Linked DNA regions of Homo sapiens. The protein of the gene in region 2 purifies or fractionates together with the protein of the main gene of each other region. This does not show direct contact. Each region holds a gene or a part of one and is shown on either strand. Other genes may lie near its edges. The genes, in order: POTEI and CDKL4.

Region 1 (3,014 bases), about 91 Mb from region 2:
TAAAAAAAAGTTTTAAAAAATTTCCAACTGGATTTTTTTTTGTTTTTTGTGGTTTTTTTTTTTGTTGTTTTTTTGTTTTGTTTTGTTTTTGTTTTTGTTTTGCAGCCCCAGGAGTTTTAGCCAATTCAGATGCCTTGCTCCCCACAATTTGGAACATTCCTTTGGATTTGACCAAGTCAGGAAGAGATGGGAGAAAAGTGAAACAACAATAAAACCCCAAACATAAACAAAAAGAGTTAAGCAAAACAAACAAATGCACAATTCATATGATTAACTGAGTGTTCTAATGGTAAGGAGGAATTAAAAGCAGCTGGTGGGTAATCTTAAATTTTAGTCATTAAGGAAAAATTTTAAGACAAAACTCTAATTCAGCTACTTACCTGGAAATAAGGCTCAGACTGGGTGATCATTCTCTGCCATCTTAGAAGCTGGAAAAACTTACACTCACCTTCCCTGTCAGAAGCAAGCTGAAACTCAGGAAAGGAGGTGCCTGCTCTCCTTTGTCAATGGAAGCAGGAAAACTTGCCTTCCTTGTTGGAAATGAGTAAAACTTCAAAAAAGGAGTTGTACAGCAAAATCAACCTTACATCTCAACCAAATTTTCGGAGATCAGGGACTCTGTGAAGGGGAGAAGCTCCACAACCTCAGCAAATTATCCTATTGGTTTGGGCAATACAAATAGCCCAGGTTGGTATCAAGCAATAATGAGATTTATCAAAGGTCAGGACCACCTTTGTAATGTCCTTCTCTTTTTTTATCTTTATTGGTAGAGTCTGTTTTGTCAGAAACTGGGAGTGCAACACCTTTTTTCTGTTTTCCATTTGCTTGAAATATTTTTCTCCATTCCTTTATTTTGAGCCTATGTATGGCACTGCACGTGAGATGGGTTGCTTGAAGACGGCATACTCCAGTGGGTCTTGGTTCTTTACCCAGCTTGCCCCGTGTCTTTCAATGGGAGCATTTAGCCCATTTACATTTAAGGTTAGTAATGGTATGTGTGGATTTTATCCTGTCGTCATGCTGTCAGCTGGTTATTTTGCAGACTTACATATGTGCTTGCTTTTTAGCATCATTGGACTGTGTACTTCAGTGTGTTTTTGTAGTAGCAGGTGATGATCTTTTCTTTCCATATTTAGTGCTTCCTTCAGGAGCTCTCGTAAGGTAGATCTGGTGATACCAAATTCCCTCAGCACTTGCTTGTCTGAAAAGGATCTTATTTCTCCTTCACTTATGATGCTTAATTTTGCTGGACATGAAATTCTGGGCTGAAATTTCTTTTCTTTAATGGCAGTTGATGTGGGTTGGGGTGTGTGCTGCACTCCTGTGTGCTCTCAGGGCAAGTAAAGCAAAACCCACCCGTGTAAACACACACAGCAAAGTGATTTAGGAAGTTTCCAAATAAAGGGCTGCCGTATGGAGAGGCAATGTGCAGGCTGGTGCGTGGCTCTAGGGGCCACCTTGCTGCAGCTCTCCACTGATATGGTACAGTCCACTAGCACGGAAGCTATGGTGTGGGCATCTAAGAGTGCCCCGTAAGCAGGTGTGGCCAGGCTGGGGCCATGGGAGAGGCGAGCAGACTAAGGAGTGCTGAGATCAGACCAGCCCCATCTCAAGTGCAAGATTGCCCAGCCTCCAGAGATCAGGTCTCAGAGGAGAACTCTCTCAAAAGTGAACCCCCAGCACAGCACAGCCGCTCTACACAAACGTGGCTAGACTTCTTTTATTAAGCAAGTCTCCTTTTTTTAAAAAGGGAACTCTCGGACCTGATCTCTGCTGGGCAATCTTGCATATAAGATGTGGCTGGTATGACCTCAGTATTCCTAAAGTGCTGGGATAAAGTGTCTCACAAGGGCAAGTGGACCCTAGAGAGACAGCCATCCCTGACCTCTGGGCTCCACATCACCTGACTTGCTGCTCCACCACTTTGCTTGTTTCCTGGGTGCTCCATCCCAGAGACATGTGAGTTAGCAATCACTTAGTGTAATCAGCCCAGGATGGAGGGTCTGTGCTGTGGGCCCAAGCCAGGGTTCCCTGTCTGGTGATGAGTAGTGGAGGGTGTGTGGTACCCGTGGGAGATGGACTGGCTTGTTCTTTGGGTCAACTGCAGCTTATTGGAGGTGTTGATAGGGCACTTAGGGTCTTTGCTCCCTTGCATCTTCTGAGGGCAGCAAGGGCAGTTCCACTGCAGAGGCAGTGGCAGAAAGGATTTCATTTGCTCCTGGAAGCTCTGTCCCAGGAACTGCAGAGTTGCTACTGGCTTGATAGCTCCAGTGGTGGGCTGGCTAGAGACCCAGGCCAGGAGGATCTGCCCATCAAGTAGAGAGCCTGGCCACTTTTCTGTAGGGCTGCTGTGGTATGCTGGGGGTCCCCTCCAGTCCCTAATTGCCTTGTATTTTCCAGGGAAGATGATAGTCTGCCCCTTCCTCTGGAAGCTCTGTACCACTGAGGTACGAACCTGTTGCCAATCTGAACACACCTATAAGATGTGGCTGGAGGCAAGTTGAGAAGTCTTACCTAGTCAGGACGAACAAGAACAGGGACTTGCTTCAAAAAGAAAAGTCTGGCCACGTTTTTATAGAGCAGCTGTGCTGTGCTGGGGGTTCACTTCAGCCCCTGGTCCGCCTCAGACACTCTGAAGCCCTAAGGCTGAAATGCCTGGGTCGCCCCAACAGCAAAGATGACAATCTGGTCCTCCCCCTGGGAGCTCTGACTCAGGGAGGCCTGAGACCTCTGTCGGCCAGAGAACAGCAGTCAAGGTAGCCAGAGACCCTGGTTGAAAGACTTCACCCACTGACTAGAAATGTGGTCAGGGACTGACGTAAACAAGAGTCTGGCCACGTTTTGGTAGCGTGGCTGTGCTGTGCTGAGGTACCTCTTCCACCCCTTGTCAGCTTGGGCTCTCCAAAGCCCGCAGGCCAGAATGGCTAGTCACCGAAAGAGCAAAGGTGGGGGCCTGCCCCTCTCCGGGAGCTCTGTCCCAGGAACATTTCACATTTCCATTGGCCAAGGAATGC
Region 2 (3,827 bases):
GATCACCTTAGTACACACAAAAAAGGAATCTGACAAAAGCCAACACTCATTCATGATGAATACAAGGGGACTTCCTCAAGGGCATCTGTGAAAAATCTACAGTTAACATCATGCTTAATGATGAAAGATTGAATGTGTTACCCCTAAGACTGGAAAAAAGATGTTTGCTTTCACTATTTTTATTTATCATTGTATTGAAAGTTCTTGTCAGTGCAATAAGGCAAGAAAAAGAAATTAAAGGCATATACATTGAAAACGAAAAGTAAGGTCAGGCACAGTGGCTCACACCTCTAACCCCAATAGTTTGGGAGGCCAAGGTGGGAGGATTGCTTGAGGCCAAAATTTTGAGAGCAGCCTGAGTAACACAGCAAGAACCCCATCTCTATAAAATAAATAGTTATTAAATGAAGTGCTCAATATATATGAATATTTTTTTAAAAAAGAAAATAAAAAGTAAAACTGTCATTATTCAGAAATGACATGATACTATCTACAGAAAATCGTAATGAATCTATAAAAAGTCTACTAGAAATAATCACCAAGTTTGCAGTGAAGTAGGATACAAGATCAATATGCAAAATAAATCATCTTTTTATATAATGGCAACAAACAATTTGAAAATAAAGTTAAGAAAACAATTCCATCCAAATTAATGTAAAAATGAATAAAATACTCAGGAATACATTTAACAACTGAAGTGCAAGACCTGCATACTGAAAATTACAAAATACCATTGAAAGAAATTAAAGATCTAAATAAAAGGAGAAAAATGCCATGTTCATGGATTTGAAAACCCAGCAAGATATCAGCTTTTCATAAATTCATCTATAAACTAATTCCTGGCCAGGAGTGGTGGCACATGCCTGTAATCCCAGCTCTTTGGGAGGCTGAGGCAGAAGGATTACTTGAGCCGAAAAGTTTGAGACAAGCCCGGTCAACATAGTGAGACCCTATCTCTAAAAAAATAAAAAATAATTAGCCAGGGTCTAGTGGCCCTCGCCTGTGGTCTCAGCTGCTTGGGATGTTGAGGCGGGAGGATCACCTGAGCCCAGGAGTTTGAGGCTACATTGAGTTATGATTATGCCACTGCACTCTAGCCTAGGCAATGCAGCAAGACCCTGTCTCTAAAAAGCCAAAATGAACAAAATTAAACAAAATTAATTCCTTATACAAATTCCAACAGGCTTTATTTGGACAGAAATTGAAACTAAGATTTATACGGAAATGCATACGACCCAGAATAGCCAAATCAACTTTGAAAAAGAACAAATTTAGAATATTTATATTAAAAATTTATCTTAAATTTGACTTAAAATTTTACTATAAAGTTATGGTAAATCAAGACTGTGGTACCAGCATAAAGACATATATCAATGAAACATAATAATGAGTCAAGAAATAAACCCTTCTATTTATGGTCAATTGACTTTTAAAATTTTATTTTATTTTTATTTTATTGTTTAAGATAGAGTCTCACTCTGTCACCCAGGCTGGAGTGCAGTGGTGTAATCTTGGCTCACTGCAACCTCCGTCTCCTGGGTTCAAGTGATTCTCCTGCCTCAGTCTCCCAAGTAGCTGGGATTACAGGCATGTGCCACCATGCCCAGCTAATTTTTGTATTTTCAGTAAAGATGGGGTTTCACCATGTTGGCCAGGCTGATCTTGAACTCCTGACCTCAAGTGATCTGCCTGCTGTGGCCTCCAAAAGTGTTGGGATTACAAGAGTGAGCCACTGCGCCTGGCCCAACTGACTTTTGACAAAGTTGCTGCAGCAATTCGACAAGGAAAGAATAGTCTTTTCAACAAATGATACTAGGACCATTGGATATCCATATGCAAAACAAACAACAAACACACACAGTAGACAGACACCTCACACAATATAGCAAAATTAACTCAAAATGGACAAAGACCAAAATGTAAGCATTAAAACTGTATAACTTCTAGAAAAAAAAAAAGAGGAGAAAAATCTTTGTGACTTTCAGTTATGCAGATTTCTTAGATATGACACCATAAGCATGATTCATAAAAGAAAAAATAGATAAAATGGAATTTATCAACATTAAAATCTTTTGCTCCTCAAAAAATTTCCCCATTAAGAAAATGAAAAGCTAAGCCACAGACTAAAGAAAAATATTAGCAAATCTTATATCTGATAAAATATTTGTATCCAGAATACATAGAGAGCATGCTTACAACTCAATAGGAGGTTAAACAACCCAATTTAAAAATGGACAAAAGATGTGAATAGACATTTTACCAAAGATACACAAATGTCTACTAAGCACATGAAAGGATGCTGTTAGCCATTAGGGAAGTGTTAATTAAAATTGCAATAAGATAGCATTACATACACATTAGAATGACTAAAATCCAAAGACTGACAATATCAAGTGTTGATAAGATGGAAACTGGAACTCACACAAATCACTGGTGAGGATGTAAAGCAGCACAGCTCCATTGGAAAACAGTTTGGCAATGTCTTAAAAGTTAAACATAGGGCCAGGCATGGTGGCTCACGCCTGTAATCCCAACACTTTGGGAGGCTGAGGCAGGTGGATCACTTGAGCTCAGGAGTTCAAGACCAGCCTGGCCAACATGGTGAAACCCTGTCTCTACTAAAAATACAAAAAGTAGCCAGGCATGGTGGCGCACACTTGTAATCCCAGCTACTTGGGAGGCTGAGGCAGGAGAATTGCTTGAACCTGGGAGGCGGAGGTTGCAGTGAGCTGAGATTGTGCCACTGCACTCCAGCCTGGGTGACAGAGTGAGACTCTGTCTCAAAAAAAAGTTAAACACAAATTTAACTTAAAAATTAACCGCCAGGCGTGGTGGCTCACGCCTGTAATCCCAGCACTTTGGGAGGCCGAGACAGGCGAATCACCTGAGGTCAGGAGTTCGAGACCAGCCTGGCCAACATGGTGACACCCCGTCTCTACTTAAAATAAAATAAAATAAAATAAAATAAATCAGCTGGGTGTGGTGGTATGCACCTGTAATCCCAGGTACTCGGGAGGCAGGAGAATTGCTTGAACCCAGGAGGCAGAGGTTGCAGTGAGCCGAGATTGTGCCATTGCACTCCAGACTAGGGGACAAGAGCGAGACTTCGTCTCAAAAAAAAAAAAAAAAAATTAACCATAAACAGCAATTTCACTCCTCAGTATCTATCCAGGAAAAATTTTAAAATAGATCTAACAATGACATGTAAGCAAATGTTCACAGCACCATTATTCAGAAGAGGTCCCTATATGGAAAACAATCCAAATGTTCATCAACTGATGAATGTGTAAACAAAATGTGGATTATCCATGCAACGAAATACTATTCAGCAACAAAAAGGAATGAACTTGCTATAATGTAGATGAACATTAAAAAAAAAAAAAAAAAAGAAAAAAGAACCACATGCCCCAAAACATAATGCTAAGTGAGAGAAGACAGACACAAAATCCTACATATTTTATAATTCCATTACAGGAAATTTCTAGAAAAGACAAATGTGCAAGTGAGAAGGGCACATCTCCTCTGTGGTATTCTTGGCAAAAATGCAAAATCTAAATCTAATTATGAGTTAACAATAGACATGGCCAAACTGAAGGGCATTCTACGAATAACCGGCCTGTACTCTTAATAAAGAATGTCAACGTCATGAAAGAAAAGATCAAAGCACTGTTCCAGATTGAAGACTAGAGAGATGGAAAAACAAAATGCGACGTGTGATCCTGAACTGGATCCTGGACTGGTGAACAACATGACCATAAAGGATACTTCTAAGATAATTGGCAAAATCTAAATTTCGACTGCAGATTTGATATCAGTTTCCTGATTTT

What was found.
Region 1: the proteins of CDKL4 (region 2) and POTEI purify together in Homo sapiens (affinity purification with mass spectrometry; 3 studies listed by BioGRID and IntAct, with this or other methods). This does not show direct contact.

The regions. Positions count from the first base shown.
Region 1 is NC_000002.12:130,458,631-130,461,644, forward strand, and holds the end of POTEI (POTE ankyrin domain family member I), read right to left. Parts: 3' UTR 825-3,014; downstream 1-824.
Region 2 is NC_000002.12:39,237,308-39,241,134, forward strand, and holds part of CDKL4 (cyclin-dependent kinase-like 4), read right to left. Parts: intron 1-3,827.